Homo sapiens: one gene and its partner. The protein of the gene in region 1 purifies or fractionates together with the protein of each later gene. This does not show direct contact. Each region holds a gene or a part of one and is shown in the gene's direction. Other genes may lie near its edges.

Region 1 (3,656 bases):
AACTTTGTTTCTAACATAATAGTTTCCCCTTATTTCTTCTCATGGTACTTGGGTTTTCTTTTACATCCTCGTGAGCAAATTGATAATGGTTTTAGGGTCTACGATTCTTCTCATACCATCTTCCCCATCATTTTGGGGTCTGTTTCGACTGACTAATTTTGTTTCCGGGTTTTGGCCTCATTTTCCTGCCTCTACATTTTTCACAAGTTTTTCTTGGTTGTTGGATATTGTCAGGTGTACACTTTTGAATGTCTGGATTTTGTTGTCTTTCTCTGAGGAGTTGGGTTGGGCTTGGCAGGCAGTTAAGGTGCAGATCATCCTTCCGAGGCTTTTTATGCTTTGAAGTGGTGGGTCTAGCATAGCCTTTCCGCCTCCCGCCACCGGCGTCCTTCCCAAGGCCTCTGCTGCACACCCGTGTGTCCCGCAAGGCCCGCGAGACCCCTGCACTCCTGCTGCTGCAAGATGACACCTTCTCGGCCCTGTGAGCTCCGCTCGTTGCTCCCTGGTAAGACGGCGGTTTCTCGGCCCTGTGAGCTCCGCTCGTTGCTCCCTGGTAGTTGCTCTTCTCTTGACCTTGAGGACTCCTGCCCTGCACCTGTGCACTGCCTGGTGCTCAGCCAGAGACTCGAGATTCCCTTGGGTTCCTAGAGCTCGTTCTGTCGGAGTAGCCCCCTCCTCTCTAGTTTCTGGCCCTCAGATTGCAGCCACCTCAGCCTCCTGAGCTCCAGCCACTGCCTTCTCCAGTCAGTGAGGCCACTGGCCCCAGCAGGTGTCTGGCCATTAGTGGGTGGGTGTTTGTAAAGTTTTCATGAATTTCTTGAACAATTGTGTGCAATGCAGAAAGTTCTCAGAGCTGACTTAAGGTGAGAGGAGCGTCCTGGCCTCCTCTGTCAGGCAGATCTGCCCTCTGGGTGCTTGAGGATTTTAAGTTCTGGCAGTGCCGGCCAGCACAGGCAGCCTGCAACTCCCAGAAACTGCATTCTGAGTCCTGCTGTAGGAACAAGCTGTTCTGCTGAGTGTCTTCTCTGTGCTGGAATGCTTTGGGGGACAAGGGACATCATGATAAGACAGACCTACTCTCACAGAATTTCTGTTTAATAGGAAAAGATACGAAATGTTATCAGATGAGCAGGCCTGCAGATCCTAGCACAACAAAGGGACTAAGGGAAGATGGTGTCCTGGAGCTGGCATGTTTGGGGAGGAATTTGCATCGGGTGGTTCTTTGGCAAAGATGGTCAGGAGGTGACACGGGACTGAGATCTGAACCAGGAGACTGAGGCAGCCGGTAGGAAAGTGCAAGGGGGAGCACTCCAGGCAGAGGCAACGGCAGGAGTGCAGAGGTCCTGGGGCAGGAAGGCGTGGGACGTGCTCTGGGAGCAGCATGGGGGCCGGAGGGTGGGAGTGCAGCCGCTGCGGTCGGGATTCTGCGTAGACGTGCGACAGCTGGTCAGTACTCCTTGGTGTCAGGGACCCAGGCTTACTCCATCCTGTGCTGCCGTGATGAGCTTCTCATCCTCATGGTCTAGTGTGGCTGCACCGGCTCTGGCCCTCATACCTCCCGGCAGGAAGCCTTCTTCTAGGTGAAGAAGAGCAAATCCCCACCTTTCAAGGACCCTCACTGCAAGTTGTCCCTGTGACTCCGTTTGTGTCCCATTGAGTACGACGCTTCCCTGCACAGGATGCTAGGACACGTTGTCTTTATTCCGCACACAGCTGAAATTTCTTACTGAGAAGAGGAAAGTTGCTGTTGAACAAAAACTAGCAACCTCAGCCAGTCAGTGACCGAGGGGCAGGGTAAGAAGAGATGAAGATGGAGGGGCAGCCCGAGGCCGGCTCCCAGAGCGCCGCGTGACCAGAGCGGACCCTGGAGTACCGTCAGTGCAGGAGGACGTGCATAGGAGAGATCAGAGCAGAGCGACTTGACCTTCAGAAGGTCCCTCCACAGAGGGAAGAGCAGAGTCTCTGGGCCGAAGAGTGGTGGGGAGGGTAATGCGGACCTGGCCCTCACTGTGTTGGGGAGGAAGCTAGTGCTGGGGAAGGAGGCTGGAGCGCTGCGGTCTGCCTGACGTTCTGGTAGCTTAGGGCTCATGTGGCAGTGCAGAGAGGGACTCGAGTGTCCCTGAGGTTCTGGCGGAACCTGGGTGCTGCCACTCATGTGACAGGAGGGCTGGAAGAGGCAGCGGGCAGAGTCCACGGCCCCATTTTGGAAGTAGTGAGGGTGAGAGGCCACTTAGGCTGCAGCTGAGGGGTGGAGCAGGCTGAGAGCTCAGAGGAGAAGCCACAGCTGGAGACCTCAGTGTAGGTTTCAACAGCAGAGAGCTGAGTTTGTAGAGATGGGAGCTGTGAGCTGGGCACGGTGGCTAACTCCTGTAATCCTAGCACTTTGGGAGGCCGAGGTGAGCAGATCACCTGAGGTCAGGAGTTCGAGAGCAGCCTGGTCAACATGGTGAAACCCTGTCTCTACTAAAAATAGAAAAATTAGCCAGGCATGGTGGCGCATGCCTGTAATCCCAGCTACTTGGGAAGCTGAGGCAGGAGAATCACTTGAGCCAGGAGGCAGAGGTTGTAGTGAGCCGAGATGGTGTCACTGCACTCCAGCCTGGGCGACAGAACGAGACTGTCTCAAAAAAAAAAAAAAGAAAGAAAGAAAGAAAAGAAATGCGAGCTGTGATTGGGTGGGTTCTGCAGGGACACCCTACGGCCCAGGTCATGTGGAGGTGTGTTCAGTAGTGTTTGCTTCCCTTCTGCCTGAATGCCTGGAGCCAGGACATGCGTCTGCCATGTCTCTCCTGACCACGTTGGCACAAGTGTTGGCTGGTCTCCTGGCTGTCGGGCTGCTTGATGCCACAGGACTTCTGCTAATCCCAAATCCCTGTTGGCTTTGCCCTGTTTCCCAGAGCGTGTCCCTGCGGTCTCCTTACGCACCTCTCAGATGTGCATTTCACCTTCGGCAGGCGGTTCCTCCTCTCTCCACAATGCTGGGAACAGGACTGTCTCTTGCACGCCTTTGGTCATTCATCAGGGTCAAAACTGGTCCCACAAACTCAGCACTGGCCGGAAGAGAGGCCCCAGGGGAGCAGCCACGCTGTTGGGAACACACAGCTCTGGGAGGCACGTGGTGGTGTGCACTTTTTGGCTGAGAGCACTGGTGGTGTTGCTCATTGGCTGTGACACCAGCTGTCACCGTGGAGGAGAGGTGAGGGCTGAGGGCACTCACAGCGTGGGACCACATGAACGGTGCCCTGTAGTGGAGGCTTTCATATGTGCACTTTCTCAAAATACTCGAGGCAAGCAGCATTCTTTGTAAAACAGTCCAGTTACAAATGTTGCTATTTACTATGAGTCCATGCTGCCGGGTCACCCAGAGGATTGAGACTTGGAATTCTGGCTGTGGGCTTTGCCTCCCCGGTACTGGGAGCTGCAGTGGAGACGCGCCGTCCAGGTTTAGGGAAGAGCTGATGTGGGCCTGGGAGGCGTGCGTGCTCAGGCAGCCCTAGGGCAGTCGTGAGGGTGTCAGGAGATGGCTTGTTCGTGTTCTGTTTCATAAGAATGACCTTCCCGTGCCACCATGGAAGCTGCTGAAGAGTGCGCTCCACCCAGCTGAGGGAGAGGACAACCGAGAGGAAGGGGTCTCGGGAGAGAGGGAGCCAACACGG
Region 2 (3,656 bases), on another chromosome or scaffold:
ATATTGGTAAGTCTCTGCTTTTAGTGTTTTTCTTAGAAAAGCTGAGAAGCTTTGAAAGGTGTATTTGCTGGCTGGGCACAGTGGCTCATGCCTGTAATCCCAACACTGGGAGGCCGAGGCGGGCAGATCACCTGAGGTCAGGAGTCCAAGTCCAGCCTGGCCAACATGGGGAAACCCCGTCTCTACTAAAAATACAAAAAAATTAGTTGGGTGTGGTGGCGGGCGCCTGTAATCCCAGCTACTCAGGAGGCTGAGGCAGAAGAATCGCTTGAACCCAGGAGGCGGAGGTTGCAGTGAGCCGAGAACACGCCATTGCACTCCAGCCTGGGCAACAAGAGTGAAACTGTCTCAAAAAAAGAAAGAAAGAAAGATGTATTTGCCCATAGAAACAATTTACTCCAAGGGTCAATTCTCACTAGCTCATTAGCTGTCACCAGATCATTAACCAGACCAGTGTGATAGTGGGTTGTGATAAAGTATCCGTAGCCACATTGCCCAATCAAAATATAAATGTGAGCCCCATATGTAATTTTAACTTTTCTAATAGCCACATTAAAAAGTAAAAAGAAACAGATGAAATTTCAGTAGTTATTTAACCTAATATTCTAAAACTCTATAATTTCCACTTAATGTAAATTATTGAGGGTTTTTTTTTAATACTTAAAGCACATCCCAGCCACATTTCAAGTGCTTAATAAGCACCTGTGGCTACCATCCTCAACAGCACAGATATAGTGTATCCTGCATGCTCTATGGAACTGATGGTAAAGAGTTGCAGGGGGCTGGGCACGGTGGCTCACGCCTGTAATCCCAGCACTTTGGGAGGCCGAGGCGGGCGGATCACAAGGTCAGGAGATCGAGACCATCCTGGCTAACACAGTGAAACCCTGTCTCTACTAAAAATACAAAAAATTAGCCGGGTGTAGTGGCAGGCGCCTGTAGTCCCAGCTACTGGGGACGCTGAGGCAGGAGAATGGCATGAACCCAGGAGGCAGAGCTTGCAGTAAGCTGAGATCATGCCACTGCACTCCAGCCGGGGCTACAGAGCGAGACTCCGTCTCAAACAAACAAACAAAAAAAAGAGTTGCAGGGAGCCCAGACTGACATAGGGAAACCCAGGGAAAGGAGATAGGGAATAGATTAAAAGATGGATAAATAAATGACGGGGAGTTGCTGATCCCTCTTGTAGCCATTCCTTTTTACTGTGTTCTGTTCATATTTTCTCTCTGATTCTCTGACTACTTTCCTTTTGTTTTTTAAGTTTCTCCCTTTTGACATTTCCCTTTTTAGTTGTCTAAATTTTTTTAAAAAAATTGTTTTGGATGTCACACCTTCAAGGCTAATTTCTCCCAAGTAAAGCTCTGTTTTATTATCATCAGACTAATTTTAAGATATTCTCATTGCTTTAAAAAAAAAAAGCTGTCTTTCTTACCAAGTAGTTGAGCAAATTGTTTCCCAATTACTGTGACAGAAATTAAAATGAGTAAAGGAGCTGGGTGTGGTGGCATACCCGGTTACTTGGGAGGCTGAGGCAGGAGGATCACTTGAGTCCAAGAGTCTGGACTATAGTCACAAGTTCATCATCAATATGGTGACCTCCTGGGAGCAGAGGATCACCAGGTTGCCTAAGGAGGAGTGAACCGGCCCGGGACAGAATCAGAGCAGGTCAAAACTGTGCTGATTAGTAGTGAGGTTGTGCCTGTGGATAGCAATTGTACTCCAACCTGAGCAACATAGCGAGACTCCATCTCTTTAGAAAAGTGAGTAAAGATGGAAAGTATAAGACTGTTACTACAAATGTCATTGTTACAAATACTTTGTTTAGAAAGATATTAGATATTTTAATATTTCACATACTTATTGTCATTTGTAATAACTTATTCTAGCACACCATTGGTTTTGTGTTTCAGATAAGCCCGTTTGTTTTTAGACCTCTGATAGTTACCTGAAATGTTTATTTGAAGCCTGAAAGGAAGACTTAATCCTTACCTCTATCACCTGTCATTAAACTGTATGGAGCAAGTCACTGCTTTACTTAGATGTTGTCTTATCATACCTGTTGTTTACATGCTAGAGTTATTCCAATTGAATTACTCCTTGACTGTTTACCTCCCTTTTCTTAGGTTCAGTGGCATACTTTGAACTTTTTAAAGAAGGATGAGCAATGGAAGATAGGATGGATGTTTTCCTAAACTGATTTTTTTTTTTTTTGGAGAAGTTTATCAGGACAGTGGATAAGTGCCTAGGTGCATTTACTGAGCCCACGTTGATGTTACTAGGGTTTTCTACTTTTAAATGATTTATCTTTTTATTCTTGGCTTTTGCCATTTTATTGCCATTGCTAAAACTGAGGAACTCATTTGAACCTCCCAAGGAGAGGAATTTTTATAACTGTTAACTACATCACTTATCAAGCATTGAGGCCAAATAAGGAGATATTTCTGTCTCCCTGTGTATCATATAGATTCAAGGGCAGAGGAGTTATATTTTGAAGCTACCAAAACTATCTTGTGCATGTGTGCTTTTTTTTTTTTTTTTTACAAGTCAGTAACTAATGCAAACACTTTTACATCTGGGATGCTGGGCTTTGTAAATCTAAAATTCTCCCAAACAGTATCTTTCAGCTTCTAGTGCCCTGTTGAAGGAGATCATGAAGAAACAAAGTTCTTCGCCTCATAAATTTAGCATTAAAAAGAAGCCCCATCAGTGCCTGTGGAAACATAGGGAAAGAAAAAAAAAAACACCCAAAGTTGTGCTGATAATTATTTTTATTTTTAAAATTTATTATAGAGCATTGCAGACGTACACAACTTATTTGTTTATTTATTTATGTTTTTTTTGAGACAGTCTTGCTCTGTCACCCAGGCTGGAGTGCAGTGGCGTGATCTCCACTCACTACAATCTCTGCCTCCCAGGTTCAGGCGATTCTTGTGCCTCAGCCTCCTGAGTAGTTGGGATTACAGGCATGCACCACCACACCTGGCTAATTTTTGTATTTTTAATAGAGGCGGGGTTTCACCATGTTGGCCAGGGTGATCTTGAACTCCTGGCCTCAAGTGATCTGACCACCTTAGCCTCCCAAAGTGCTGGGATTACAAGTGTGAGCCACTGCACCTGCCCCCAAATTAGAATAGTATAATGAATCCCCATGTACCTATGCCTAACCTCAACAACAATCAACTTACAGCCAGTTTTTTCTCAGCCACATCCACTTCCTTGCTTCCTTCTTACTTTGAAGTAAATCCCAATCATTATGTCATTTCATCTGTAAACATTGAGGTATATATGTCTAAAATATATATGTGTTTCTAAAAACATTTTTTTAAAGATAATGTCAACCCAAGAAAATTAATAATACCTTCAAATCATCAAATAGACTGAGTCTTTTAAAAATAGAAATTCGGCCGAGCATGGTGGCTCATGCCTGTAATCCCAACACTTTGGGAGGCTGAGGTGGGCGGATCACAAGGTCAGGAGTTAGACACCAGCCTGACCAACCTGGTGAAACCCCGTCTCTACTAAAAATATAAAAATTAGCCAGGTGTGGTGGCATGTGCCTGTGTAATCCCAGCTACTCAGGAGGCTGAGGCAGGAGAATCGCTTGAACCCAGGAGGCGGAGGTTGCAGTGAGCCGAGATCGCGCCACTGCACTCCAG

What was found. The genes of interacting proteins can lie anywhere in the genome.
Region 2: the proteins of GTSE1 (region 1) and CALU purify together in Homo sapiens (affinity purification with mass spectrometry; one large-scale study listed by BioGRID and IntAct). This does not show direct contact.

Annotation. Positions count from the first base shown.
Region 1 is NC_000022.11:46,317,359-46,321,014, forward strand, and holds part of GTSE1 (G2 and S phase-expressed protein 1), read left to right. Parts: exon of another isoform or gene 1-505; intron 506-3,656. UniProt on the Homo sapiens protein: May be involved in p53-induced cell cycle arrest in G2/M phase by interfering with microtubule rearrangements that are required to enter mitosis. Overexpression delays G2/M phase progression.
Region 2 is NC_000007.14:128,759,847-128,763,502, forward strand, and holds part of CALU (calumenin isoform a precursor), read left to right. Parts: coding exon 1-6; intron 7-3,656. UniProt on the Homo sapiens protein: Involved in regulation of vitamin K-dependent carboxylation of multiple N-terminal glutamate residues. Seems to inhibit gamma-carboxylase GGCX. Binds 7 calcium ions with a low affinity.